Homo sapiens: one gene and its partners. The protein of the gene in region 6 purifies or fractionates together with the protein of the main gene of each other region. This does not show direct contact. Each region holds a gene or a part of one and is shown on either strand. Other genes may lie near its edges. The genes, in order: ACSL1, CDC42EP1, DNAJC3, OAF, PCSK9, FCN3 and SLC25A25.

Region 1 (4,571 bases), on a different chromosome or scaffold from region 6:
GCCTCGGAAGCAGCCAGCCCTCCCACGCCGTGATTTTGTACTTCTAGTCTCCAGAACCAGGACAGACCATACATTTCGGTTGTTGAAGCCACTTAGTGTGTGGTACTTCGTTCCAGCAGCCCTTGAAAACAATAGACCACAGAACTTGGGAGGTGCCTGCAGAGGTTCTGGGGCTGAGGGACCGGTTGGAGAAGAGGAAAAAGGAGAGGCAAAGATGACAAAATCACGGATGGGGAGGCGAGATCTGGACAGAAAAACCAGGGATTAGCCAAGCGGGAACCAGTGAAAACGAACGTGGAGTCCATTTTTTCTAGATCTGGAAGATGGAGATCTAAAAGGACTGAGCTGCTAGAGAGGTTGCTGGTGTGTGCGTTGTCCTCACCCCACTGCACCACTGCGCCCAGCACACTGTGGGAGACACCCAGGGAAAGTCCTTCAGTTATTTGTGGGAGTGAACTGCAGTGTGGCTGAGGCCTGGAGCGAACCACGGTCAGTTTCCCCTGCCTGCAGCCCAGGCATAGCCCTGCGTTGGTTGTGCCCACACTCTGGGGGCAGCCTGAGTGCCAAGTGTGGTACTGCTCTCACTAGCATTTAACCTCTGTGCCCCAGCTTCCTCTTCTGTGAAAGGACAGTAATGACAGTACCTACCTCACTGGGTTATGAAGATTAAATAGAATAATGTGTACGCAGTGTTTGTAGCAATGCCTGGCATCAAGCACTGGGTAAACAGTATCTATTATTATCAAAGGCCTTTACGACAACAATCATTCTTCAAACGGCCCTCCAGCGAACGCTGGGCGCAAACTCCACGGTAACGGGGACCAATGTTGTTAGAGGTTGAGGTTCCTGGTAGGTCCCAGGTGCTAAAAGGAAGAGCAGCCTTTGGGATGTGAGCCCGAAAACCATCGTGTTGGCTTCTGAAGCCCCAAGATGGGCATGGCAGGGACGCGGAAGCCCTCAGAACCGCGGAAGCCCTCAGAACCGCACAGCAGGTGGCCGCCGTGGTGCAGCGCGCAGTCGGCCCTCAGCTCCCCTGCACCGGCGCGAGCTGCGGGCGCTGCCCACGTCAGGCTCTGCAGACACCAGACAGAAAAGGTCTTCCGGCCAGGGAGCGTGGGGGAAACCCTGTGGGGCCGCGCCCGTCAGTGTCAAGGAAAAACGGAGAGGAAGGCCCTTGCCTCCAGGGCCCTCGCAGCAGAATTCTGCCCGGCCTGCCAGGAGGCCAGCGGGGCACGGGCTGAGGGTGCAGGATCCGGAGGGCGCCGCCCGCCCCTCGGGCATCGCGGGGCCCAGGGTCCGCGGGGCCTCTGAGCTGAGGCGGTCCAATGTACCCTTTGTCCTTCCTCAGATTCATTATGAAATCCGAGGCAGTCTGGGCGACTCCAGCGGCGTTCGCCCGCCGCAGCCTCTCGACCGCCGGCCACCCGCCAGCCACGCGCGCCCAGACAGGAGGGCGGCCGGGCGCTCGGCGGGGCGGGGCCTGCCGGGGGCGGGGCCTGCGGGCGGGGCGGGGCCGCGGGAGGGCGGGGCCGGCGCGGCGAGCGCACCAGCAGCATCCTGGCTCAGCCGCGGCGGTGGCGGGGGCGCAACCAGCGGGCCGAGGCGGCGGCGCCAGCGGCGCCTTAAATAGCATCCAGAGCCGGCGCGGGGCAGGGAGTGGGCTGCAGTGACAGCCGGCGGCGGAGCGGCCGGTCCACGGAGGAGGTGAGTGCGCCCGCCGTGCGGAGCCGCGCCTGCTCCCGCGGCGGTGCCCGGGCCCCGGCCGAGGCGCCGGCTGACGTTGCCCTTCAGGGCCGAGCCCGGAGCAGCGGCCGCCGCGGAGGCGCGTGAGCCACCCCAGGCTCGTGGGGCCGCGCCGCCTTTCCGGCCTCCTGCCCGCGGCCCCGCTTCCCTCGGCAGCCGGAGGCCTCCGGGGTGCCCGTGCTGCCGCAGCTTCCTGTGTCTGAGTCGCGGGCGGCGCGGGCGCGGGGCTGGTGCGCGGCCGGGGATGCGCGCGGGACCGACCCTTGTGTGTGCGGCGGCGGGGACCGGCCCGGCGAAGCAGCCGGAGGCCGCGCTTCGGCTGGGAGGAGGTGGCCCAGCTGGGCCGCTGACGTTGCCCTCGTCCGCGGCCCCCGCCTGCCCAGAGGCCGGGCTCGCGGGCGTTCGGACCGCGCGTGGGGCGAGACTGCACTCGCGCCCGCTGAGATGCCGGCCCCACGCAGCGCGGCGGCACGAGGCCCACAGGCAGCTCAGAGGCCGCTGCCAGAGGCAGACATTCTCTCGGTGACTCCAGAGGAGTGCCCGTGGCCCTTGCACTTGGCCGTGGAGTCATTGATCTAAGGAGTGCTGGCATTTTTTGAAATTGAGAAGCAAAGATGATGTCTGTCACCTGGCAGCGTAGACGGAGAGTGGCGGTAGATGACTTGAATGGACACGTGGATTCGAGTCTGGGGACAGGCGTTCCCCCAGTCGGTGCGTTGTGAGAGTGTGGAAACCCCTTCCCCACTCAGTCCAATTTCAAGGTTATGGAGCATAATTAAGAGTGACCATTCTAAAAGCGTTCTCTAGTGCCCTGGCTAAGACTTTTAAGCTTCTTGGTGCAGGAGTGTCTAAAGTCCCGCGACTCTCACTGCCCTGTCTTTTATTTTCTTGACCTTTGATTAGCGTTGAGAGAAACTGGTTAAATCTTGCAGTTTCTGCCACCCATTTCACAACTTAACCTGTGATTGTCCCAAAGAAAACAATTATTGGCTTCTTGCTAGCAAAAAAATCAAAGGCTTCCGGTTGATTGTTTCTTTCTTTTTTTTCTTTTTTCAAGTGGACGTGGAAGGTTAGGCTGGCTAAAACTTAAAGTTTGAGTTGTAGGTCTGTGCTGGGTAGGCTTGAGAAGATGGAGCTTTTTAAGGAACCATTGCTCGCCATCAGATTGGAGCCAGACAGTGCAGTGTGATATAGTGGAAAAGGACCAGGTCTTGGGAGACTTACTTTCTTGTTCTGACTCAACTCGGAAAACACCTCCCTAGTCTGAGGCCCCCCTCCTTATATTTGTGAACAAACTGCATTAGACTAAAATCTTTCACGAGTCCAAATTCTGCGACTAGAAAAATAAACTTGTTAGCCGCACACCTTATACCTCTCCCCTTTAAAACAGACATATTAAAGACTTCTGTTTTCTGAATTTACTGTAAACAGAATACTTAAAAAAAAATTACCCAGACAGGCGTGGTGGCTCACTGTAATCCCAGCACTTTGGGAGACCGAGGCGGGCAGATCATTTGAGGTCAGGAGTTCGAGACCAGCCTGACCAACATGGAGAAACCCTATCTCTACTAAAAATACAAATAATTAGCCAGGCGTGGTGGCATGCATCTCTAGTCCCAGCTACTCGAGAGGCTGAGCCAGGAGAATCGCTTGAACTCAGGAGGCAGAAGTTGTGATGAGCTGAGATCCCGCCACTGCACTCCAGACTGGGCAACAGAGCAGGACTCTGTAAAAAACAAAACAAAACAAAAAATTACCCTTCCCCACAATTATAAGCATTTTGGCATATTTCCTTCCTGTCTCTGTTGTTCCTATTTTGGCAGTATTTTTATTGTTATCGCAGGCAGCCTGACTGAAAAGAAATCTGGGCTTCTAAGTTTTTGGTATTTAGGAGGTAGATACAAGTGACCCATGCATGTAGGGTTAGGTATCTATTTATACCATGCAGGTAGAGTTTTCATAGCCACCTCTACTTTTGGGTGAAGTTTAGGCTAACTGAAAGTGTACCAGCATGCATGGTGTATGCAGAAAAATGAACGTAATTCAGATTATGTGATAGTTTTCTCTTGTTGCCATTATATATAACCCAGGGCTTACCACAAACTGAAATTTCTTATGCATTGACATTTAGCATTTGATGTAAAATGACTATCTCAGAGTTGCTGCCACAAACACTGGTAAAACTGTCCCTACTTTCTAGCATGCTTAATGTCTAGGTCTTGCTACATCTTTTTTGATGTAACTGTTTTGTGGAAAATGGTTGTGTGTTTGGGGAGGCTTTTGAGAAAAGATAAGGTTGTCTTGTCATTATAACTGGGTATTTCTCCTCTCTCCCTTCCAGTTTCACTTGTCTGGAAATAGCAAGACTATAGGAGTAGTAATTTCTAGATATTTATAGTCAGTAACCTTAGAGGAATGTTTAGTTTTTAAGATCAATTGAATTTATTGTGTAAGTTTGCCATTTAAAACAGGTGCCCATTTGTGTTTACTGTCTCTTGTAACCAAACTCTGTTCAATTAGAATCCATTAGTAATGTTTTGTGGAGAGTCTTGTTTGGATGATGCAGTGCATGAGGCTCCTGTACTACAAAATAGAAAAGAAGTTCCTCTAAGGCAGCTCAAAGCTGTTGATATCCTGAAGCCTTTTTAGGCCTCCCTCTCTGACAGGCGGTGATCTGACAGGAGGTAGATAAAGGTGCCGGAGTTTTTAGTGAAGGTTGGCAGTCCAACTTGGTAGTCAGACAAACACATGATGGTCAAAAGTGCCTTTGACACTGGGGCCTGGAGAAGAATTCTCAGTGGCCAGAGCTGATCTGAAGCTGCAGGCAG
Region 2 (3,708 bases), on a different chromosome or scaffold from region 6:
CATGTCCTCTTTCAAGTTAAAAGAATAAAAGACTTCCAGCCGAGATTCTCTGTCCTGGTTCTTCTTCCGAGTCACACCAGGATCAACAGAGCTTGGGTGTGTTCCCCTATCCCTACCTGCAGTTCCTGCCCCAGGGCTAAAAGCAAACAAAATAATCTGTTTTTATCGAGTCTTCCTGTGGCAAGAACTGTGGCTTGTGACTCCTTTCTCTCTTGGGTCCCTCAAGTTTACAAAAACATGGGATACCCCTGGTCTGAGGACCTCTGAATGAAGGCACCCCATGATCCAGAATGTCCTGCTCTCAGGGATCCTGAGGTCCCGTAGTGATCCTGCCTCCTGCCACACATCCTCTGGTTGCATACCTGTAGTGACAGGGAGTGCACCACCTCACGTTAGCTGTTTGTGGCTAAATTTAACCGGTCTTCCGATACCTAAGGAGGGCATTTCTCTTTCCGTGCATTTTAATGCTCCTGGCATTTTCATAATACTGAGGAGGAAACAGATATGAGGACACCCGGCTGCCATGTTGGGAGGCTGAGACATGCTCCCAACAGTCCTACGCACTTGCTTCTGTCTACTTGCCCCCACTATCGCCAGAGCAAATGCCATGCTGCCCTGTGGGATTATGGGGCAGACACGAGTCCCAGGCACCTGGGCCAGGGGCTGTTCCCGGAACTGCAGATAAGGGCTCCCACCTGGGCCTCTTATCTCAGGGGCGTTCCAGCCTGGTTACTCATTACCCTCCCCTTGGCGCGTCCACTTCCCTTCCCTGCTGGGGGCCTTGATGGGGGATCCTTGGCTTTCTAAACTCCCTGGAGGGGAGGGGACTGAAGCAGACAGAGCTGATGCTGTTGTCCCAGGTCCCCAAGCATCTTGCAGGACACCTTTTATCAAAACAGCCTTATTTAATCAGGCCCCAGAGGCAAGTCTGGGGTATACAGGCAGGTGGGATTCCTCCCCGGGAGGTCATACCTGACCTTTCTGGGGTAAGAGGGAGGCTGGGGCGGGGATGTTGGGGAAGCGGCCTGGGAGACGGCTGTCAGGGTTGCAGCAGGGACGCTCTGGGATGAGCTGGGGGCAGGCGGTCCCTTTGGGAGGTGAGACAATGGCCCTGTGTGGTACACTCCCTGCCCCCCACCCCCCACGGGCCGCTTGGTCTGGCACAAAGGACACACTGTGAGGCTGGGTCCTCCAGCTGGTGGGGGTGGCATGGAGTGGGGCCTAAGGAACAGCTATTAGGTCCAGAGTGGCAGTCGGGGGAGGTGGTCAGTTTGGCAGGGCCTCTGGGAGCATAAAAGTCCCAGAGCAAGCCTGGCCTTCCCTGTCCTCCCTCCCATGTCTGTCCTGCAGAGGTGGGGAGGGGTTTAGGGGCAACATGACTTCTCCCCTCTCCGGTCTGGTAGGAACCAGCTGTTAGGTGAGGGGCCGGCTCTGCACCTAGGTGGGGCCCTGGGACCGTGCCCCAGCCCCTCACACCTTGACCTCATCATCCTCCTCAGCATCCGCAAATTCAAAGGTGTTTGCTTGCACTGTGCTGGGCACTGGGGTCCTGCTGCCTGCCTGGGGCGCCCTCCACTCTTCGTCCAGGCTCTCCCAGGAGGCCCGGGCTTGGGGCAGCACCTCCACCCGCTCCTGCCGCGCATCCATCTCTGGGTAGTGGTGGCCGCCATCCCAGCCTGCTCCCCAGTGCCTGCCGAGGGCAGGGCCAGCAGGTCCTCGGGGACCCCCTCCCACTGGGCTGGACTTCACCTCAGCCACTGGGCCCAACCCAGCTGTTACCCCATTGGGACAGTGTCCATGGGGTGTGGAGCTTGCGGCAGGGGCTGGGGGATTTGCAGCAGGACCCGTGGGGGTTGCGGCAGGTGCTGAGGGGTTTGCAGCAGGCGCTGGGGGGTTTGCAGTAGTGGCTGGGGGGTTTGCAGCAGGACCCGTGGGGTTTGCAGTAGGGGCTGGGGGGTTTGCAGCGGGGGCTGGAGTCTCAGCTGCAGGGGCTTCTGGGAGGCTCATGACCCCTAGCAGCTCGCTGAGGAGTGAGGGCCCAAGGTCGAGGTCCAGGCGGAAGGACAAGAGAGAGTCAGAGCGGCGAAGCCCGGGCTCAGAGGGGAAGGAACCATCCCGGTCTCGGTCATGCGGCTTTTCCGAGCGGGGCAGGCGGGAGATGGTGCAGAACCCAGAGTCCAGGCCTAGAAGAGAAATGGGCAGTGGGCTCAGAGCTGGGGTCCCTCACCAGGAATTCAGGAGGGGAGACAGGACCAGTCCTGGCTTGCTGTGTGGCCTCTGGCTAGTCCCTCCCCTCTCTGGCCTCGGTTTCTCCCATCTTTCCAATAGAATACACTCCATGGTCACCTGTGTGATCTTCCTGTCTACCCCGAAAGCTGAAAATCATCATTATCCTCATTTCCATTATGCAGATGGGGAAAGTGAGGCTCAGTTTGGGATGGGGCGAAGGAGCTAGCCCAAGGCCATAGAAGTCTGACGAGGTGGAATCAAGTCTGGAGCTCAAATCTCCTCTCAGTCCCAACTGTGACCTCAGCCATGGCCACCGGCTCCCTGCCATGACGCTGGCCGATGGCTGCAGGTGAACCCATAGCACGTGAGCTGGTTTGTGGACACAGGATGGGACCAGCAATCAGGGTCTGACTGTATAGAAATGAAGGACAGACATGTCCAGCCCCTGCTTCCAGGACTACAGACCTGAGACAGAATCGGGTTTCTGTGGACCAGTCCTCAGTGCGGTTCTGAGCAGCCGCCTGGGGCAGGGGTGTTAGAGCCACTCCCGCAAGGCAGGGAGTGGCCACCAGGTGGCAGCAGGGGCCCATGGTTCTCAGGTGAGCTCTGACCGAACGGCCAAGGTGGCACTTCTGGCTGGGCAGGAAGGCCTGTGGCTTGCGGTTCCTGTGAGTGGTTTCCCAAATTTGTCGAGTTACAGGAAACCAAGTTCAGATAACAACAGCTCCAGTGTCCTGAGCACCTACTAAGTATCAGCCCCCCTGCGCCTCTCCTGGCACTGAATCTTAGCAATGACCCCGAGAGACTCATTATCCAGGCGAGGACTTGAACTTATAGAGGTCAACTGACTTCCTGAAATTCAGGCAGAACTGGATTGGAATCTAGAGCCCAGGCCCTTCACCTCTCCATGATATCATTCCGACATGAGGGGAAGGCTTTGGTTGAAGGGGGCAAGAATGGGTGGGTGACTGGTTCAGCTAAGGCCCAGAGAGGGGGATGTGCTTGCCCAGGTCACACAGCAAGTGAGGGGCAGCTAGAATTCAAACTCCACCTCCTCACTCTCAACCTCAGGTGTTTTGGGGAGTCAGCTTGTTCCCACCACTGCACCCCCTCCCCATCCATGATGTGGGGTCTGGGCCTGACCTCTGTGGTCACTTGGAGCTCACTTGGAGCTTGGAGGAGCCACTGAACCCCTCTGGGCCTCAGCCTCAGCCTCTGAAAAGTGGGCCAAGATGGCCCAGGCCCTCACCGTAGCTGGAGTGGCCGTCCGTGGAGCTGGTGGGGCTGCTGTCGAAGCTGAGCTTGCCAACCACGAGGCTGTCGTAGGCGGCCTGGTTGAGCTGGGGCAGGGAGATGGCGTTCTTGATGATGGGGGAGATGGCCGGTGGAGCCGGGGAGGGTGCAGGGGGAGATGCCATCCTCCGGGGGGGCGCCCCCACCCTCCGCACCAGCTGCAGCTTCTTGGCCAGGAAGCTGCGG
Region 3 (3,995 bases), on a different chromosome or scaffold from region 6:
CAAGTTACTTTAATTCCACATAGTTTGTTTTCATGAAGCTGCTTATTAAACAGGAAGGCTCTTATATTTATAGAAACAAAATGGAATGTTTACTATATAATGCTAGTAAGTCATTTTAATTTGAATTAACAAATGTATGCATGGTACAATGCCACGTATAAATGTATATAGTAAATTATAAGTCTCAGTATGGTTTTTGTTTAATCGTTGCAAACAAAAAATACTTTTATTGTGATTTCTGTGGAAAACTACTCATTGATTGTTTTGACATGGAGTATTTTCCTTTTTTAAATACATGAACAGTGAAGTTCGGGAATGTCTTAAACTTGACCAGGATCATAAAAGGTGTTTTGCACACTATAAACAAGTAAAGAAACTTAATAAGCTGATTGAGTCAGCTGAAGAGCTCATCAGAGATGGCAGGTGAGAATATGGTTGTTCCAACTGTCCAGCCATTCCTTATGTGCGGGGCTGTGGGCACAAGTGAACTACAGAACTGCTCTTTTACTTCTCAGCCATTGAGGGTGGGGTATTCTAGATAGCCCTGGGCCTTAGCAAAACTACCAGAATTGGACATTTTTGGAATAGGGAAGAATATAAATAATAGTAACTGTGTAGTATCCTTACCAGCAGAATTACTTGTACTATACCAAATATTTATTATCTCCTATATCAGGCTGAGCTATGTACTGAGGGTGCAGACTTAAACTTGACAATAGTTTTTGTTCTTAAGAAGTTTATAGCATTGCGTGGGAGACAAATATATGAATTGATTATTAAAAGACAATATGATACCAAAGTGATAGAATGTACATAGGATAATTGGAGTACCAAAGAGGAGTATTTACTCCAAACCAGGATGGTAAAGGCAAGGAGTAAAAGAGGAGCTTTTTTTTTTAGAGAAGGTGATAGATATTTAAATCCTAATCCTAAAGAATAAGTAAAAGTGGACAGAAGTAAGAGGCTGTGTCTGTGTGAGTGTTGTTTGTAGGGGGTTTATAGGCTGGGCAGGAGGACTGAAAAGAGTAGAGGGCACTGCAGACAAAACTGCCTAATAGAAAATAGGCTCCAATTCCTCTACTTTTAGTAGCTTTGTAAGTTGCCATCATGAGAATGCTTCACTCGGTTTCCCCCAACATCTTGCAGACTATAACGCCTTGCAAAACTATAGTACATTGTCACAATCAGGATATTGACGTGGGTGCAGTCAAGATACAGAATAATTCCATCCCAACAAGGACACCTCATGTTGCCCTTATAGCCACACCTACTTCCCTCTTGTTCCTATCCCTTCCTTAGCTTGTGGCAACCACTAATCTATTCACTTGTAGAATTCTGTCATTTTAAGAATGTTACATAAATAGAATCATACAATGTATAAACTTTTGGGATTGGCTTTTTTTTTTTTTGAGACAATCTCACTATGTTGCCCACCTGTTCACAGATACAGTCATAGTACACTCAAGTGATCCTTCTGCCTCAGCCTTCTGAGTAGCTGGGACTTCAGATGCATGCTACCACAGCTGGCAGGATGGGCTTTTTTCCCCCTCATTCGAATTGTCTGGAGATTTATCCATATTGTATCAATAATTCCTCCTTGTTTACTGTTGAGTAGTTTCCATGGTATGGATTTACTGCAGTTTGTTTAACCATTTATCCATTGAAGGACCTGAGGTTGGGAGTTTGAGACCAGCCTGACCAACACGGAGAAACCCTGTCTCTACTAAAAATACAAAATTAGCCGGGCGTGGTGGCGCATGCCTGTAATCCCAGCTACTGCGGAGGCTGAGGTGGGAGAATCGCTTGAACCCGGGAAGTTGAGGTTGCGGTGAGCCGAGATTGTGCCATTACACTCCAGCCTGGGCAACAAGAGCGAAACTCCGTCTCTAAAAAAAATGTTTTCTGTTTGCAAGTCTGTCCTTTTCAGGTCCTCTGGCTAGACAGAGCAGACTTCTGCAGGTTTTTGTTATTGTCGTTCTGTACCTGTTGGCGTTTCTGCATTGCTGGAATCTTCAGCTCCAAGTCTGGGATATATGAAACAAAAAAAAAGAACCCAGGGAACGTCTTACCATGTTTTCCTCAGGTCCTGAGTCACTAGCTAGTCTGTCTCTTTTCCTCCTTTGAAAGTTTTCTATTTTAAAAAATATACATATAATCTCTAGGGTTTTTTAGTTGTGCTTAGCTGGAGCACTTGGGACAAATACATCTATTCCACTTTCCCAGAAGCTGGCTTTTTTGTTTTCTTCTTTAAGTTCCAGGATGTATGTGCAGAATGTGGAGGTTTGTTACATAGGTAAACGTGTGCCATGGTGGTTTGCTGCACCTATCAACCCATTACTTAGGTATTAAGCCCCACATGCATTAGCTATTTGTCCTGATGCTCTCCCTCCCCTTGCTGCCTGCCCCACACAGGCCTCCGTGTGTGATGTTCCCCTCCCTGTGTCCATGTGTTCTCATTGTTCAGCTCCCACTTATGAGTGAGAATATGCAGTGCTTTGTTTTCTGTTCCTGCGTTAGTTTGCTGAGGATGATAGAGAAGCTGGCTTTTATTTTAAATGTTTTAGTTAAGCCTGTGTTTTAATACATTGGCATATTTACATATGAAGATTGTAGCACTTTGGGAATAGTGTGCCACCATGGCATAGAAACATATTTTTTACTTTACTATTGTTGAGGGAAATAACTGAGTATATAACAGGATTAGTACTTTTTACTGGTTTAAAGAAAATGCTGAAATAGCTTTTATTCTTAGAAAGCTTATACAGTTGGGAATTTAATCAGGTACCTTTTGTGTGAACTACGTTGTACTTTGTTGTAAATACTGACATTAATTATATAAAATGGCACGTAATGGGTTCCATTATTTTCATGGAAGTGTTTACTGACCAAGAAATAAAACTTGATCTCTGTATTGTTCAAGGTGCTCAGTGTAAGTCAGACTTCAACAGGGTGTTTTACTCAGGTTTGGAATTCTGAGCAATGTTTCTGTAAGGAAATTCTTCTGGTTTGATTGGTACTTATACTCACAGGTATGCTTTGTTCTGTCCATCTGCATCTCCTATGGTCATATGTTTTTATTTCCTAACTCTTAATTATGGAGTGTACCTTCTATGGGACTCTAGATTAATAAGGGAAAAGCCGAATCTGAAGCCATGGGCTCATCCAATTGGATTGATTAAGCAACACATGGTGAAGAGGGGAGGAGCCTTTCTACAGCTCTGGAAATCAAATGTCATCATTTCTTATCATGATTTGCTCATTTCTTAGATACACAGATGCTACCAGCAAATATGAATCTGTCATGAAAACAGAGCCAAGCATTGCTGAATATACAGTTCGTTCAAAGGAGAGGATTTGCCACTGCTTTTCTAAGGTAACAGTTGACTTGTTCCCAGAAATGTGAAAACTCAACATGTGGAATACCAACCATAAATCCTTGTCTCACATTTCCTTTTAGGACGAGAAGCCTGTTGAAGCTATTAGGGTTTGTTCTGAAGTTTTACAGATGGAACCTGACAATGTGAATGCCCTGAAAGATCGAGCAGAGGCCTATTTGATAGAGGAAATGTATGATGAAGGTAAATCTTTAAGGATTTGATTTGCAGTACCGAAGTGTTGATTAGGAAATTATCACATTTTAAGCTTCCTTTTCCTTAAAACAAATTTACCAGAGTACCTGGAAATGTTGACAATTTTAGAAAAATGGCAGAGAACTTGAAAATTACTCTTCCATAGTGGAACCTGAAAGGTATACCATGTGAGGAAAGAGTTCTGCCATTGAAACCAGTTCAGTACAATAGAAAAATAAATATTTTAGCTTTTTTTGTAGAAAGGAAAAAAAATAACAAAATAGAAAATTTAAATTGTAGCTCTCATGTTATCCGGAAGTAATCACTGTTCATTTTGCATTTATCTTTTCCAGCTTTTATCTATGCACATATATTACTCTATATTTTATGCACATATACATATTCTCTCTCTCTCTCTCTCTCTCT
Region 4 (3,298 bases), on a different chromosome or scaffold from region 6:
TGCTTTTTAAAAAAGCATTATTTTTGGTGACTTGGAAATCAGAAGGGAAAACATACTGATTTGGGGACTCCCCTTCCATCAAAAAAGGCACACAGGAGGTAGCAGGTGCCTTCTCCAAGTATCCCTTGCCCACCTGGAGCAATGGCTGGGGCTTGGGATGGAGGCCCTGGCAGAAAGGGAAGGAGAAAAAGGACTGGGGGGTGACTGATGGGACAGCTCCCTCCCCATCCCCCAGCAAGGCTGAGCTGGTCCTTGAAAACAGGTTCAGAAGGGAGGTGTGCCCACCTGAAAAGGTTATCTCCCCGCTGACCCTCAGCTCAACCAAGGCCAAGCAAGCCCAGCTCCCTCAACCCTCTGGCCTGCATGAGTTCAAGGGGCAGTTGCAGCCTGTTCTGGGAGTTCTGGGAGCAGAGTAAAGGGGACCACCCTGCAAACCCCTTCCCTCGCCAAGGCCTTCAAGGAAGGATCTGACTGTCCCCATCTCTTCCTTGAGAAAGTTGGGTCACCTGGGGAACCCATGAGACTCTTCCAACCCCTAAAACACTCCTGCCTCCACCTTGCCAAATCGTTACCATCTTCCAGCCTCAACCCACACCCCAACTCTTCCAGAAAGCCTTTCCCAATACATGCAGCCTGCACATCCCTCGCTCTGGAACCATCCAGAACCCTGCCCGGCACTTCCTATTACAGCCTCTTCATGTTGAAAGATACTTTGGAAGTGAAGAGCCTTCCAGATGTCTGATTTCATTGAGTCAGGCTTATAGCTGCAGGAATGTCTGCTTTTTTCACTAATAGTAATGATACTAAGAATGGCTAACAGCACTATGTGCTAGATGCTTGACATGCAAGAATTCACTTCGGTCTCTTAAGTAAGCTCATTTTATAGCTAAGGGAGTGGAGGCACAGAGAGGTCAAGCAACTTGACCCATGGCTGCACAGCAGGTAAGTAGCCGAGCCCAGATCTGAAGCGGGGTTCCAATCTCCACCCCATCTCTTGCCTTCGCGCTGGCTATTTCTGACTGGCTTACTACGGTTGCAGCTATGTCTGTCTCATTGTCTTGGGTGCAGAAGTTTTATCTCATCCTTCCCTAGTAACATCTTCCTTCTCCTCCTTCCTTCCTCAAATGGCTGAGCACACAGTAGGTGCTTTCGAAGTTCTTGTTCCAAGATAGGCCACTGCTAGGGTGTGGGGACACTTTCTGACATCAGGTGGCAGCATTGGCCAAAAGTTTTCTCCAAACTCTGGGTCTCATTAGTCAAGTAAAAACTTAAAACGTTTATTTCTGGTAGAAATGATAAATACTTTGCACTAAAAATCTGGAATTCAAGTTTTCCTCGTACTTCATGCTCCCTCCCTGCCCCAGAACCTTACAAAAATATTTCTGTGTAGAGAGGGAAAGAGCTGGTGCCTGCTCTGGAGGCAACGTCCAGGTCCGGGAAAGGCACTCGTGGTCTGTGATCTGTCTCAGTGATGGGAGGTCTCCACTCGCCCCACAGGCAGCCTCGGGGCCAGAGATGAGAATATGCTGTAATCCAGTACAGGGGCTGCGTCGTGGGTCCCCAACAGCTCCTTCTTTGGGGATAGTGAGCCCCTTGTTGGGGAGTAGGAAGGGACTGAGGGGCCAGCTCCTTCCAGATGTGTGCATGGGGAAGGGAGTTGTGTCTGGGGAGGTGGGTGTCCAGGTATAGACTCCTTTTAGGGTCTAAACGTTCAAGGAGTTCAACAGAACAACCAGAGGCCATCATGTTTTGGCAGCTTGCAAGTGAACACTCCAGGGGAGATGCAGGAGGGAGGGGTGTAGATCTGGGGAGCCCTTCTCTCCCTCTCTGCCCGCAAGGAAGGCACAGGGTGGGAATGGGGGTGCCTTCATGAGACCCCCTGCCATGCCACACCCCCTTCACAGTCATGTGAGATGGGGCCAGAGGGGCCCAGGCTCTAGGGCCAGGGGAGTGGGGAGGGAGGGAAATAAGGCCTCAGGTGGGGGTTGCCACCCCCTCTAGTGGCTGGTGAAGAGCAGTGGGCCCAGAGCAGCCACCCGCCAGGTTGCTCCCACCCTAGCCTGGGTAGGGATCCTCATCCCAGAGACACAGCTGCCTCTGGGGCACGTAGAAGTCGAAGCTGTAGCTCTTCTGGCAGCTGCGGATGCCACACTTGTAGGGCGTGGGCCGGTCGCGGCTGTGGCAGTACTTGAGCATGCAGGGGTACCAGGCCAGGCTCAGGCCATAGCGGCAGACGCAGGGCTTCCCGTGGTCCCCCACCTGCCTGCAGCGAGGCAGCTCCGCCTGCTCTGAGGCCTTGGGCAGAGCCTCGAACACAGAACTGTCCACACCTGGGGGAGAGAGGCAAGGATCAGGGAGGGAGGGAGGGAGGGAGGGAAGGAGCTCCCCTAGTCAGAGGCCGCTGCCATTCCCCACTTGGTCTCCTCTGTCATCCCACAGGCATTTACAGACACCTCCATTTCCAAGCTTGCCATGGGACACAGAGGTAAGACCTGGTTACTAGGCTCCTCCTTGCTGGGCTCGTGGGAGAAACAGATTAAATAGGAATCACCCTCCTCTATGGCATCAACTGTGTGCTACGGGCTCTACTTACAGTACCTCCATCAGTCACCCCATGGGCTAAGTATCGTCATCCCTGTTTTAGTGATGAGAACATCGACCCAGAGTTTAATGATCTGGCCAAGGTTTCAAGGCCTCCACTAGACCACACTGCCACCCAATGCTTTAAAAAATCACCATACCGGAGTGTGCTGAGATAGAGGCGTGGGGAGACAAGGTTGGAAGTCAAGGAAGGCTTCTTAAAAAAGGTGACATCTGGCCGGGCACAGTGGCTCATGCCTGTAATCCCACTTTAGGAGTCTGAGGCAGGTGGATCACCTGAGGCCAGGAGTTTGAGACCAGCCTGGCCAACACGGTGAAACCTTGTTTCTACTAAAAGCACAAAAATTAGCTGGGCACAGTGGCGGGCACCTATAATCTCAGCTATCCTGGAGGCTGAGGCAGGAGAATTGCTGGAACCCGGGTGGCGGAGGTTGCAGTGAGCCGAGATCGTGCCATTGCACTCCAGCCTGGGGGACAACAGTGAGACTTTATCTCAAAAAAAAAAAAGTGACATCTGAGTAGGGCTAGGCAGAGAAGGGCCAGCAAAGCACACCCACAGTGGGGCAGGTCAGGTCAGGGTGGCCAGGGCTTGGATCAAATGGGAAAGTGTGCATATTGGGGCGCTGGAGGAGACGGAAGGTACCGGCCTGATTAGGCTCAGGGGCTGTATGGGAGGGGCCAGCTTCTGGAGGACACT
Region 5 (3,995 bases), about 28 Mb from region 6:
TCTGCCCAATACTCTTTGGGCCTCCCTGTTGTCCAGCTCTCTCCGCGGCTCCATGACTGACAACTTGAGCAAGGCTAATGTGAATGGGAGCGGTTGAGGGCTCAGACCTCTCACCCGAGGAACATCCACAGAGTGTGCCGCATGCCCGGTGCAGTGTGGCTGCGGGGACACAGACACGGAGCCTCGGCCCTGAGGAGCTGGGGGGCAGTGACCGTCCCTCCTCTGACCCACCACTCCTCCAGTGTCAGGACACTGCGGGTATCTAGGGGAAGGAATCTTGTTCCACTTCAAGTCTGGAACTTCAAGTCTGTGTGTGTGCGTGCGCGCGCGCGCGTTGGGGGTGGGGGTTGCAGAGCAGATGCGTACCTGACAGCGGTAACCTAGGTCCCCCCTGGCCTATCAAGGCTTCCCTGGCGGCCGAATTTAAAGGCATCAAGCAAACAAAGCCCAACACATCTCTGCCTTGTCCTCTCAGTTTCCCCCCGTGGCACTTAGAACCACTTGATACACCGAATAGTTTCCTATCTCCCCCACTAGGATGTAAACTCCACAGGGGCATTGGGAATGCTGCCTGGCTATGGTAGGGACAGAGGGGAGCACCAGGGCGGGGCAGGGGTGCCAGAGTTCTGCCTGGGCAGTCAGATTTTCCTTAGGAGGGGACATTTGAGTGGGACCCAAACAGGTGTATAGCAGTTGTCCAGCCCAGCTGGCAAGGCCTGAGTCTGCCTCTGCAACCCCTCTCTTGGGCTCCTTTCTCTGCCACCCACCTCCTCACCTTTCCAGGTCATCACAGTTGGGGCCACCAATGCCCAAGACCAGCCGGTGACCCTGGGGACTTTGGGGACCAACTTTGGCCGCTGTGTGGACCTCTTTGCCCCAGGGGAGGACATCATTGGTGCCTCCAGCGACTGCAGCACCTGCTTTGTGTCACAGAGTGGGACATCACAGGCTGCTGCCCACGTGGCTGGTAAGTCACCACCCCACTGCCTCGGCCACCGTGATGCTAACAGCCCCTTTGGCAGTCAGGGTCTGTGCCGGGACCTCCAGTGCCAGGCTCTGTGCAGGGGGACCAGAGATGAAGTAGGCCTGATGGTGCCTTCAAGGACACTCAGTCTGATGAGGGAGGCGAGTGCACAGAGGAAACACGAGGTCAGGGCTGTATTAGAGGGAGCCCAGAGGAGGCACCTGCCCAGCCCGAGGGTCAGAGAAGGCATCTTGGAGGAGGGACATTTGATCGGGAGCTTGATGGATGAATAGGAGTTCACCTGGCCGATAAGACAGCAACTACCAAGGCTTAGAGGTGTGAGAGGAGGCTGTCTTACCTCACTGAGTAAGGACTGCAGGCGGCTTACCTTCGAGAAGAGAGCTTAGTGTCTGTGTGCACGTGTGTTTGTGTGTATGTGTGTGCGTGTGTGCACTGGCAGGAGTCCCCTGCTGGGGCAGGAGGGCCGGGCCATCACCATCTTTCACCATTCACCCCTGCACCAGGCATTGCAGCCATGATGCTGTCTGCCGAGCCGGAGCTCACCCTGGCCGAGTTGAGGCAGAGACTGATCCACTTCTCTGCCAAAGATGTCATCAATGAGGCCTGGTTCCCTGAGGACCAGCGGGTACTGACCCCCAACCTGGTGGCCGCCCTGCCCCCCAGCACCCATGGGGCAGGTAAGCAGGATGGCAGGGTGGGCAAGTCCAGGCTGGGGCTTGGGAGGTCTGTGTGACCTTGACAGTCTCTCCCTTCTCCCTTGTCTGTGTAAGGAGGATGACGCCACCTTAAATAGGATTAAATGAGAATGGGGCTCTGAAAGGGCTGTGCAATATTTTCATAACGTGTTTTTATAGAGACAGTTGAGTATGTTCTTTAAGCCCTCCTCTCTCCTACCATGAACTAAAGATTTCTGTGGAGGTCCCCTCACTCCCAGCACCCCCTCCTCATCCCAGGCCCTTTTTGCAGGTTGGCAGCTGTTTTGCAGGACTGTATGGTCAGCACACTCGGGGCCTACACGGATGGCCACAGCCGTCGCCCGCTGCGCCCCAGATGAGGAGCTGCTGAGCTGCTCCAGTTTCTCCAGGAGTGGGAAGCGGCGGGGCGAGCGCATGGAGGTGACTGTACCCCTCCTTCGTGTGTGTGTGTGTGTGTGTGTGTGTGTGTGTGTGTGTGTGTGTGTGTGTGTCAGTGCTGGGCCCTCAGGGACCCCCAGCAAGCCCCTCCATCCTCCAGACTCCAGCTCTTCTGTAAGCTTACAGGGCTGGCCAGACCAGGAGTGGGGCACTCCTCACTTCACGCGGCTGGGGGCTGCTGGAGAGAGCCACAGCGGGAAGGGTTTCCTAGAGGCTGCAGGACAGTGCTGGATGGATTTTCAATGCTCACCTGGGTGTGAGCGTGCGGCAGGGCCGCGTGAGGGTCAGCGATCTGCTACTCTGGACTCAGCCATCTCTAGGCCCCTCTCACTCAGGTGCTCCATGGTTCTGGGAGCTGAGAAATCTCAAACCAGCAAAAAAGTGGAATTGATGTTGATGCTACAGGATAGTGCACAGATGCCATCTGGTTGCAGCATTTTGGTGGAAGGGCAGTGCCCAGCTAGGAGAGTGAGGAGGGGCAGGCATTTCTGGCTTGAGGAGATGGGGTCTTAATGCTCGTGTGAGAGGCAGAGTGGGTGGAGTGGAGCTGGCTGGATCCTTGCTTTGGCCTCCTGGATTTCTCTCTATCTCCATTTTGAAACCACTCTGTGTTTGGAAGAACTTTTGAGTATTCAGAGCTGCCCACTGGCAGAACAGTCTTCCTTGGGCAGGAGTGAGCTCCTTGTCCCCAGAAGGCTGGGTCTGGCTGGCCCCTGGCAGGGACACTGATGAGGGTGCTTGAGTTGATCCTGTCTAGTCCCTTTCTGTGTTTTCAAAGCCCATTCTAAAGCAGATTCCCATTTCCGTCTTTGACTCTAAGGCCCAAGGGGGCAAGCTGGTCTGCCGGGCCCACAACGCTTTTGGGGGTGAGGGTGTCTACGCCATTGCCAGGTGCTGCCTGCTACCCCAGGCCAACTGCAGCGTCCACACAGCTCCACCAGCTGAGGCCAGCATGGGGACCCGTGTCCACTGCCACCAACAGGGCCACGTCCTCACAGGTAGGAGGCTGGGCTTGCCCTGGGGTGAGGAGGGGTCTCTTTCTCCTTATGCACCCACTGCCCGCGAGGCTTGGTCCTCACAAGTGTGATCCATGAGACTCAAGCCTGACTTGCAGTTCCATACTCTGGTTCTGCCACTTCCATGCCCTTTGAGCCTGGGCAGGTGACCTTACTTCTCCTCATCTCAGCTTCCTCCTCCATAAGAGGGAAAAAGGTATTACCTGCCTCATTGTGTTGCAAGGAGATGGGCAGCATCTAGGGCACTGGCCTGGAGTATCGCAGGTGCTTTGCCTAAGGTGGTGCAGTCCAGGAGAGGCAGCTCCAGAGAGAGGCCCCCGGCTGGGGCTGAAAGGAGGGCAGACCTCGGTTTGAATTTCACCCTGCCGCTCTATAGCTGTGTGACTTGGGCAAATTACTTAACATCTCTGTATGAGGAAATGATGAGTGCTAAGCACTTAGCTTAGTGCCGGGACAATATAAATTCTAGCTATCGTTACTATTGTTTTCATCACCCGTTGCTTTAAAATCCAGCCTCTGGTATAGGCAACTATTGACGGGCTACCCTGTGTCGAAAACATGCCCAGGCAGGTAGCAGGAAGTCACAGATGGGGACCTCTTGGGGCATCAAGGGATGGTGCCCTGAGGCTGAGCTGTTCTGGTTGGGTGGAGCATGAGAGGTCTGGGAAGACAGTGGGACTCCAGCCTGGAATAAGAGGCTCAGAGTTGATTCTCGTCTGAGCACGTCCAGGGGAACCACTGAGGGTTTGGGAACAGGAGAGTGAGGGTGAGAACCTGGTTCTGGGCACAGCAGGCTGGCATGTAGGATGGATGTTCAGGAAAGATGAGCATAGTCAGGTGGCTGGTGCCCTTGTCCAGGGG
Region 6 (4,718 bases):
TCCTAGAACTGGAATTGCGGTCTCAGGATATCCCTCTCGCGGACACATCCTGTCAGGCAAACACTGCCTCCACTTCCCCTGATACCACTTGCACCTCAGCCCTCTCCATAAGCACCAGGGAGGTGCAGAGGAGGCCTTGAGGGAGGGTTTCCTGAATGAGTGAATGAATGAGCCCTGCCTCTCCTCCCTTATCACCTGAGGTCCCTCTCCAGCTCAGGCCTGATCCTTCACATCTGGACCCTGGCTGCTGCGTCCTCCCTGGCTTCCCGGCCTCCAGGCCTTCCTACATGGGCTTCCCGCTCAATTGGCGTACATTAGCAGCTGTTTCCTAAGCCTCACGGGACTCAAGGTTGAGCATGGAGTCACTTTCTTTTTTTTTGAGACGGAGTTTTTGCTCTTTCGCCCAGGCTGGAGTGCAGTGGTGCGATCTCGGCTCATTGCAACCTCTGCCTTCGGGTTTCAAGTGATTCTCTTGCCTCAGCCTCCTGAGTAGCTGGGATTACAGGTGCATGCCACCAAGCCCGGCTAATTTTTGTATTTTTAGTAGAGACAGGGTTTCACCGTGTTAGCCAGGCTGGTCTCGAACCCCTGACCTCAGGTGATCTGCCTGCCTCGGACTCCCAAAATCCCGGGATTACAGGCATGAGCCACCGCAGCCAGCCAGAATCACTTTCTTAATGGTGCTTTTCCCTGGCGGGGGCATGGGGCTTGGGTAAAACTCTGTTGCTCTCAGCATATAAGTGGCCAAGAGAACAGAAGTCACGTCCCATCACTGGGCCTCAGTTTCTCTTTCCTTATTCATTTAACTCTTTCTTACTGAGCACCCATTTTGTACCAGGCCCATAATGCAATAATAAGGATTAATAGCAAGTCCATGTGAGGATCGGAGGTGACGTCAGTATGACGCTGGAATGCAGTAGATGCCCAGGAAATGGTAGCAGTTGTCACTATTCATAGCATTGACAAGGATCAGGGAAGGATTCCCAGTGGAGATGGCTGTAGAGCTAGACCTTCATGGACAGATGGGGCTTCACAGGTAGAGACGACTGTGAATGTAGAGGTCTGGAGAGATGGCTGGGGAGCCCTGGAAGCCAGGATCAGAAGTTGGACTCTTTCAGTGTGCGGTGGCTCACACCTGTAATCCTAGCACTTTGGGAGGCCGAGGTGGGTGGATCACCTAAGGTCAGGATTTCGAGACCAGCCTGGCCAACATGGTGAAACCCCTTCTATACTAAAAAAAAAAATACAAAAAATTAGCTGGGCTTGGTGGCGTGCACCCATAATCCCAGCTACTTGGGAGGCTGAGGCAGGAGAATCACTTGAACCCGGGAGGCAGAGGTTGCATTGGTTGCATTGAGCTGAGAGCACGCCATTGCATTCCAGCCTGGGCAACAAGAGTGAAACTCCGTCTCAAAAAAACAAAAAAACAAAAAACAAAAAACAAAAAGATGTTGGACTCCATCCTGGTTGGATAGGGCAGGGATAATGCCCTTTCTCTCTGGGGCTGAAGGAGGAAATACTCCCACCCCCTGCTGGCTCCAGTCTGGGTGGGGTGTCCCTGGGGGACAATGGGAGGAAGTCTTGTTTCATGTCCTCCCACCAGCCTGGCCCCCTTATAATCTGGCATCCTTCCCCTGGTGGGCCCAGCAAGATGGATCTACTGTGGATCCTGCCCTCCCTGTGGCTTCTCCTGCTTGGGGGGCCTGCCTGCCTGAAGACCCAGGAACACCCCAGCTGCCCAGGTGGGCACCTAGGGTGCCCTCCTCACCAACCCACTCCTCATTCCCTCGCTGGGTGTCCCCCCACCAAGGCTCATCAACCTCAAGGAGCAGGGTGGGAGTTTCATAATCTGGGCTCTGCATGTAAATATATGCAAATGGATGCAAAGCACACGAAACCTTGCCAGCTCAGGAGACAAGCATCCTGACAGTGGGAATCTGGGAGACAGGAAGAGAACTGAAGAGGGGTCTGGAAGAGACAGTCTACCCTGTGCCCACCCTGCCTGTGTCTCCCTGTAGGACCCAGGGAACTGGAAGCCAGCAAAGTTGTCCTCCTGCCCAGTTGTCCCGGAGCTCCAGGAAGTCCTGGGGAGAAGGGAGCCCCAGGTCCTCAAGGTGAGAGGGGCTGGGGAGCGGGCTGGGATCTTGGGAATGGGGAAGGCAGGAAAGTAGCAATTTTTGTCTGTGCTGAGGGGCCACGACAAAGGAGCAAGGAACCTACTCTGTGCCAGCTCCAGGCTGGGCACCCGGCATCCTAAGATCAACTCTGCCAGGTAAGTGGTTTCATCCCCATTCTGCTGAGGAGGAAAGGGAGGTTCAGAGAGGATAAGATATTTGCCCGCAATCACAAAGTGAGTGAAGGGTGAAACTGGGATTTGAACCTCTGGCTCCAAGTCTCTTGTTTCTTTTTGGTCCTGGGCATGGGGTGGGACTCAGGAAATCTCTGCCTTTGTGATTTCAGGGCCACCTGGACCACCAGGCAAGATGGGCCCCAAGGGTGAGCCAGGTGAGTAAGTGGGGCTGGAGGCCTCCCCGCTTTCTTTGCCTCTGTCCCTGGACTCTAGGGTGGGATCTCTGCTTGGCTGCTGTGCCTATGATGGCTCTCTCACAGGGGAATGGATGGCTGGGAGGAGTGGGAAGGATTAGGAGAAGGGCCTGGCTACCCTATGATGGCCCTCCTATTGGGGATGGAGGGCTGGGAGGAGTGGGGAGGATTAGGAGAAGGGCCTGGGTACCCTATGAAGGCCCTCCTACAGGGTTTGGAAGGCTGGGAGGAGTGGAGAGGATTAGGAGAAGGGCCTGGGTACCCTATGATGGCCCTCCTACAGGGTATGGAAGGCTGGGAGGAGTGGGAAGGATTCGGAAAAGGGCCTGGGTACCGGCTCCACTGGTGGCTCAGCGCTGGGGTGCTGAGACATCAGAGCCAACACTCATCCCTTCTCTGGGGCAGGAGATCCAGTGAACCTGCTCCGGTGCCAGGAAGGTGAGGCAGCCCTTGCAGGAGCCAGGAACTTGGGATCACATGGTGTTGGGTGTTGGCAGACCCCCAAGTGTGGCCAAGATCCTCCCCACAGCCTCCTCAGAACCCTTCTTCAGGGACCTGAAGGAGCCAAGAGGGTCCCTAGGGTCCCACACTTGTTCCAGTGCCTGGGGGTGGGGGTCAGGGAATAACCTGGGCACCACCCCAGTCCATCTCCCCTTTCCCAGGCCCCAGAAACTGCCGGGAGCTGTTGAGCCAGGGCGCCACCTTGAGCGGCTGGTACCATCTGTGCCTACCTGAGGGCAGGGCCCTCCCAGTCTTTTGTGACATGGACACCGAGGGGGGCGGCTGGCTGGTGAGTGTCTGAGAAATGGGCTAACAGGCCAGGCCCACTGGTCACTTCTCCCCCTTGGCCCCTAGGGGAGCCAGAACCCACCAGAGCAAGGCATTTCCTAGAGGAATTCACTGACAAATGTTTAGTGAGCCCCCAATGGGACCTGAAGAAGTATGAGGGCTTCACAGAGGAGGTGCCTTTTGAAAAGACCTTAAGTTGAGTGCAGTAGCTCACGCCTGTAATCCCAGCTACTTGGGAGGCTGAGGCAAGAGAATTGCCTGAACCCAGGAGGTGGAGGTTGCAGTGAGCCGAGTTCTTGCCATTGCACTCCAGCCTGGGTGAAAAGAGTGAAACTCTGTCTCAAAAAAAAAAAAAAAAAAAAATAGGGTAGGGAGGGGCATTCCAGCTAGAAGTAAAGATAAACTCAGGGAGGCAGCAGAGTAAAAGGTTTGCAGGGAACGCGTGAGTGAGCTGAGAGCAGGCGTGGGTGTCGGCTAAAGTCTGCCGGCACTGACGGAACATGGATTGAGGACCTCTGTAAAGGCCAGTTCATGGAAGGCACTAAATGATCAACTTAAGAAGTGTGCAGCGCGCCCAGACGCGGTGGTTGGCTGGACGTGGTGGCTCACGCCTATAATCCCAGCACTTTGGGAGGCCAAGGCGGGCAGATCACCTGAGGTCAAGAGTTCGAGATCAGCCTGGCCAACATGGTGAAACCCCATCTTTACTAAAAATATAAAAATTAGCCAGGCGTGATGGTGGGCGCCTGTAATCCAAGTTATTCAGGAGGCTGAGCTGGGAGAATTGCTTGAACCCCGGAGGTGGTGGTTGCAGTGAGCCAAGATTGAGTCACTGCACTCCAGCCTGGGCAACGGAGTGAGACTCTGTCTTAAAAAAAAAAAAAAAAAAGAAGAGTGTGCAGGGCAATGGGTAGCCCCAGGAGAGTTTTAAGCAGGGGAGGGGCCAAGTAGAACTTCTGTTTTAAAAAGATGATTCGGGCTACACCATGAAAGATGCACTGCATTGGGGGACCAGTGGAGGCAGGGACATGGTTTAGGAAGACAGCAAGGAGCCAGGCAGTAAAGACAGTGGAGCAGGCCTGACACAGTAGCTCACACCTGTAATCCCAGCACTTTGGGAGGCCGAGGTGGGTGGATTGCCTGAGCTCAGGAGTTCAAGACCAGCCTGGGCAACATGGCAAAACCCCATCTCTACTAAAAATACAAAAAATTAGCTGGGCGTGGTGGCAGGTGCCTGTAATCCCAGCTATGCAGAAAGCTAAGGCACGAGAATTGCTTGAACCAGGGAGGCAGAGGTTGCAGTGAGCCGAGATCACACCACTGTACTCCAGCCTGGTAACAGGGGGTGAGACTCTATCTCAAAAAAATAAATAAATAAAATAAGA
Region 7 (3,965 bases), on a different chromosome or scaffold from region 6:
AAAGCAGAAACAGAAACCCTCTGGGTTTAGCCTTCCTATTTTTTCTTTTCTTTCTTTCTTTTTTTTTTTTTTTTTTTTTTTGAGATGGAGTTTCACTCTTGTTGCCCAGGCTGGAGTGCAATGGTGCAATCTCAGCTCACCGCAATCTCCGCCTCCCGGGTTCAAGCGATTCTCCTGCCTCAGCCTCCCGAGTACTGGAATTACAGGCATGCGCCACCACTCCCCGTTAATTTTGTATTTTTAGTAGAGACGGGTTTTCTCCAAATTGGTCAGGCTGGTCTCAAACTCCTGACCTCAGGTGATCCACCCGGCTTGGCCTCCCAAAGTGCTGGGATTACAGGCGTAAGCCACTGTGCCCGGCCAGCCATTCTACCTTTTCAAGTGAGTATTCATCAGATACATACAGGAAAATCTCCAGTTCACAACACTATTTTGTGTAAAACTGACTGGAAACATTACAAAACAAAACAAAACAAAAAAAACCTGTCTCTAGCCGGGTGCGGTGGCTCACGCCTGTAATCCCAACACTTTGGGAGGCCGAGGCAGGTGGATCACCTGAGGTCAGGAGCCCGAGACCAACCTGGCCAACATGGTGGAAGCCTATCTCTACTAAAAATACAAAAATTAGCTGGGTGGCCGGGCGCGGTGGCTCATGCCTGTAATCCCAGCACTTTGGGAGGCTGAGGCGGGCGGATCACAAGGTCAGGAGATCAAGACCATCCTGGCTAACACGGTGAAACCCCATCTCTCTTAAAAATTCAAACAAAAAAAAAATTAGCTGGGCATGGTGGCGGGCACCTGTAGTCCCAGCTACTAGGGAGGCTGAGGCAGGAGAATGGCGTGAACCCCGGAGGCGGAGCTTGCAGTGAGCCAAGATCGCACCACTGCACTCGAGCCTGGGTGACAGAGTGAGACTGTCTCAAAAAAAAAAAAAAAAAAAAAAAAAATTAGCTGGGTGTGGTGGCACATGCCTGTAATCCCAGCTACTAGGGAGGCTGAGGCAGGAGAATGGCGTGAACCCGGGAGGCGGAGCTTGCAGTGAGCCAAGATCGCACCACTGCACTCGAGCCTGGGTGACAGAGTGAGACTCTCTCAAAAAAAAAAAAAAAAAAATTAGCTGGGTGTGGTGGCACATGCCTGTAATCCCAGCTACTGGGGAGGCTGAGGCGGGAGAATCTCTTGAACCCAGGAGGCGGAGGCTGCAGTGAGCCAAGATTGCACCAATGCACTCCAGCCTGGGAGACAGAACCAGACTCCGTCTCAAAACAAACAAACAAAAAAAACTTGTCTCTAAATCTCCTGGACTTAACCATTCTATCTTGCGTAGTGTTACTCTTGGTCCTCCTAGGCTGATCCTAATAGTTAGCGCTAAATACCTTGGATGTTGATCCAAGAATCTTGAACATGAGTTAACAACACCTATGTACACCCACCCAACAAATTGGTTTAATTCATTGGCGGTTTACCAGATTCTTTTCATACTTGGCTACGAGATTCTCTAATTGTCATGTGTACAAATGGACCAAACTAACTCAGCAGTGAAACAGGTTCTTAGGTAAAGTACTCAGGAGTCCTATTCCAGGCTGTAAATCAGGCTAAGCTACAGTAAATGAAATACTTGGGAAAATGGCAGCTACACCCGCCAAGTCAGACTGAAGGGGGAAGAGACAGAAGGGAAAGAAACAGCCTCTGCTCTGAGGTTCTCATACAGAAAGGCCAGCACTTCTCTTCCTGGCAGGCCCAGGGATGACCATTTCTCTGCGCCCCTATGCCCACACCTCGGCCAAGAGCCCACAATAGTAACAATCTCGCTTTGACTTTTAGAAAAAAAATTTCCCCCGGATTCTTTCACTCCGTCCACACTCCAACCCCGCGGGGATCACGATCCCATTTTCTGGATAAACAGGGCAATGGAGATGAGCCTAAACCATGAGAACTGTCAGTCTTCGCCGCCAACGTCCACACGGATCAGCCTGAAACCCCAATACCAATTTTTTTTTCAACTCCCACATGTTCCTGAGAGGAACCAGATCAGGGCCCACGGCTGGCATGGAAACGAGAGGGAAAGGAGGGGGTGCTGCTGGGGACTGATGGATGAACCCATCCTTGGGTGAAGGGAGCGTCCAGCTTGGCCTTGAGGTCAGGAGGTGACAAAGGCACACTCCTGAGACCTGGCCTTCTACTCTGGGCAAGAAAGGGCTTTTCGCCCATCAGAAAGCCCATAGGATGCCCACCTGTGTCCACGAAGAACCCGGCTCAAGCACCCAAAGAAGTCAGGAAGGAGCCCCGCTCCCACCAGGGCATAAGTGGGGTGTCCCTCAGTGAGTCAGGGGGCACCCTTCCTCTGGACAGTGGGGGTTCCGCCCAGCCCAAGGGGCCGTCCCCCGAGACCTGTCACCCGGCCCTCGAGGGGCTCCCTCCCCGCCAGTGCTGAGGACGCGCGCAGCCTACCTGGAGCTCGCCCTCGGTGCGGTGCAGTCCCAGGCGCCGCAGCCCCACCGCCAGGTCGTTGACACACAGGCCGCCGTCCCGGTTGACGTCGAGCGTCTGAAAGAGTCTCCACAGGCGCAGCCGGTGGTCCGGGCCCCCGCAGATAGCGCCGCCGCAGGGGTCCCCCACGGACGCCGGCGATGAGGCAGACGAAGAGGCGGCGGTGGCGGCGGCGTCCGGCGGCGGGGAGGCCACACAGCGGCACAACACACTGCTCACCATCGGGCGCGAGGCAGGGGCTCCGGGCGCGGGCGGGAGCGGGGGCGGCGGGCCGGCGGTGACCGCGCGGGAGGCAAGCCAGGCGCTCTGCAGCTGGGAGCGCGGGCTCGGAGACGCCGGCAAGCTGGCGGAAGGGGCGGCTTCCGGGAGCCCCGCCCCTCCGCGCCCCGCTTCGCCGGCCACGCCCGGGCGCACCGAAGGCCAGTCACAGGCTCGGATGGGGAGGAGGGAGGGGCGGAGCCTGTCTAAGGACAGCCCACGCGCCACGGACTACCCGGATCAATGGGGTGGGCGGGGTCACCCGGCTCCGCCTGGGGCCGATTCAAACTGAGGGAGGCGGGGATTGGCTGAGCCGGGGGCCAAGAGAGAGAAAATCACGCAGCGATAGGCATGAGTAATGTGATTGGCAGGCGGAAGGCCCCGTGTCCAGTTTCCATTGATGAACTAACTCTGTTTAGACTGCGGGATCTTAAGGATGGGAGGAGCGGTAGTGTACGGAGAGATCGTAGCCTCCAGTGGGAAACAGGATTTGTGTGAGAGCATTTGTGAACTGCAGTTGCGAGGCAGAGTTTGTGCCGGTGGGAGGAATTAAAAGTTAATTGACCCATGGGTCACGGCCGAAAGCACTAAGTATCCTCAGGAAGCAGGGTTTTGGTAATCTAACTCCCTAAACCACCAATAAAATAGCTGAATTTAACGGCTTAATAGTCGTAATACTGACAATTGAACGACAGAATGATTTTCCAATGGAAGTGAATAAAGGTTAGGTGGGCGGGGCCCTCTGGGCGACGGACACAATTTTAGACCAATGATCAGGCGAATTACAGTAAGCAGGCGTGCTCTTTAGCTGAGCGACAGATCGAAAGAACCAGTGATCGACGTGATATTTGAGCAGCTACCAACCGGGAAGGCCGGTTTTCCCGGAGAAGCGCTGGGAGGCGGGAAGAGGGGAAGTGGGCGGATCTCCGCACACCTCGGCGGAAGAGGCAGATTCAGGAAGCCATTACGCTGCTGGCTGGCAGCGGCCGGGCCGGTCGGGGCTGGGCCCTACGCACTTTGCGTAGCGAGGGGGGTTACCAAAGGCCTAGTGCTTGGCCTCGAGCAAGCCTGGCCTATCCCCTGTAGGGGGTGGGTGAGGGGCGAGGCTGAGGAAGAAGAGAAGGGGAATTGGGGCGCTTGAGGGGATTATAATTTCTTTAAAAAGAGGGGAGGGGAGAGGCCATGGCCGTCCCAGCCAAGAAAAGGAAGATGAACTT

What was found.
Region 1: the proteins of FCN3 (region 6) and ACSL1 purify together in Homo sapiens (affinity purification with mass spectrometry; one large-scale study listed by BioGRID and IntAct). This does not show direct contact.
Region 2: the proteins of FCN3 (region 6) and CDC42EP1 purify together in Homo sapiens (affinity purification with mass spectrometry; one large-scale study listed by BioGRID and IntAct). This does not show direct contact.
Region 3: the proteins of FCN3 (region 6) and DNAJC3 purify together in Homo sapiens (affinity purification with mass spectrometry; one large-scale study listed by BioGRID and IntAct). This does not show direct contact.
Region 4: the proteins of FCN3 (region 6) and OAF purify together in Homo sapiens (affinity purification with mass spectrometry; one large-scale study listed by BioGRID and IntAct). This does not show direct contact.
Region 5: the proteins of FCN3 (region 6) and PCSK9 purify together in Homo sapiens (affinity purification with mass spectrometry; one large-scale study listed by BioGRID and IntAct). This does not show direct contact.
Region 7: the proteins of FCN3 (region 6) and SLC25A25 purify together in Homo sapiens (affinity purification with mass spectrometry; one large-scale study listed by BioGRID and IntAct). This does not show direct contact.

Annotation. Positions count from the first base shown.
Region 1 is NC_000004.12:184,823,049-184,827,619, reverse strand, and holds the start of ACSL1 (long-chain-fatty-acid--CoA ligase 1), read left to right. Parts: upstream 1-1,651; 5' UTR 1,652-1,704; intron 1,705-2,383; exon of another isoform or gene 2,384-2,454; intron 2,455-4,571. UniProt on the Homo sapiens protein: Catalyzes the conversion of long-chain fatty acids to their active form acyl-CoAs for both synthesis of cellular lipids, and degradation via beta-oxidation. Preferentially uses palmitoleate, oleate and linoleate.
Region 2 is NC_000022.11:37,566,583-37,570,290, reverse strand, and holds the end of CDC42EP1 (cdc42 effector protein 1), read right to left. Parts: coding exon 3,479-3,708; intron 2,184-3,478; coding exon 1,471-2,183; 3' UTR 886-1,470; downstream 1-885. Other genes in the region: LGALS2 (galectin-2), read left to right, coding at 1-28. UniProt on the Homo sapiens protein: Probably involved in the organization of the actin cytoskeleton. Induced membrane extensions in fibroblasts.
Region 3 is NC_000013.11:95,760,376-95,764,370, forward strand, and holds part of DNAJC3 (dnaJ homolog subfamily C member 3 precursor), read left to right. Parts: intron 1-303; coding exon 304-423; intron 424-3,267; coding exon 3,268-3,373; intron 3,374-3,457; coding exon 3,458-3,578; intron 3,579-3,995. UniProt on the Homo sapiens protein: Involved in the unfolded protein response (UPR) during endoplasmic reticulum (ER) stress.
Region 4 is NC_000011.10:120,227,900-120,231,197, reverse strand, and holds the end of OAF (out at first protein homolog precursor), read right to left. Parts: intron 2,331-3,298; coding exon 2,056-2,330; 3' UTR 864-2,055; downstream 1-863.
Region 5 is NC_000001.11:55,056,548-55,060,542, forward strand, and holds part of PCSK9 (proprotein convertase subtilisin/kexin type 9 isoform 1 preproprotein), read left to right. Parts: exon of another isoform or gene 1-258; intron 259-783; coding exon 784-967; intron 968-1,488; coding exon 1,489-1,662; intron 1,663-1,951; coding exon 1,952-2,100; intron 2,101-2,896; coding exon of another isoform or gene 2,897-2,938; coding exon 2,939-3,116; intron 3,117-3,995.
Region 6 is NC_000001.11:27,371,752-27,376,469, reverse strand, and holds the start of FCN3 (ficolin-3 isoform 1 precursor), read left to right. Parts: upstream 1-1,645; 5' UTR 1,646-1,651; coding exon 1,652-1,742; intron 1,743-2,018; coding exon 2,019-2,114; intron 2,115-2,460; coding exon 2,461-2,505; intron 2,506-2,949; coding exon 2,950-2,982; intron 2,983-3,206; coding exon 3,207-3,334; intron 3,335-4,718. UniProt on the Homo sapiens protein: May function in innate immunity through activation of the lectin complement pathway. Calcium-dependent and GlcNAc-binding lectin. Has affinity with GalNAc, GlcNAc, D-fucose, as mono/oligosaccharide and lipopolysaccharides from S.typhimurium and S.minnesota.
Region 7 is NC_000009.12:128,067,067-128,071,031, reverse strand, and holds the start of SLC25A25 (mitochondrial adenyl nucleotide antiporter SLC25A25), read right to left. Parts: upstream 2,801-3,965; 5' UTR 2,713-2,800; coding exon 2,452-2,712; intron 1-2,451. Other genes in the region: NAIF1 (nuclear apoptosis-inducing factor 1), read left to right, coding at 3,931-3,965. UniProt on the Homo sapiens protein: Electroneutral antiporter that most probably mediates the transport of adenyl nucleotides through the inner mitochondrial membrane.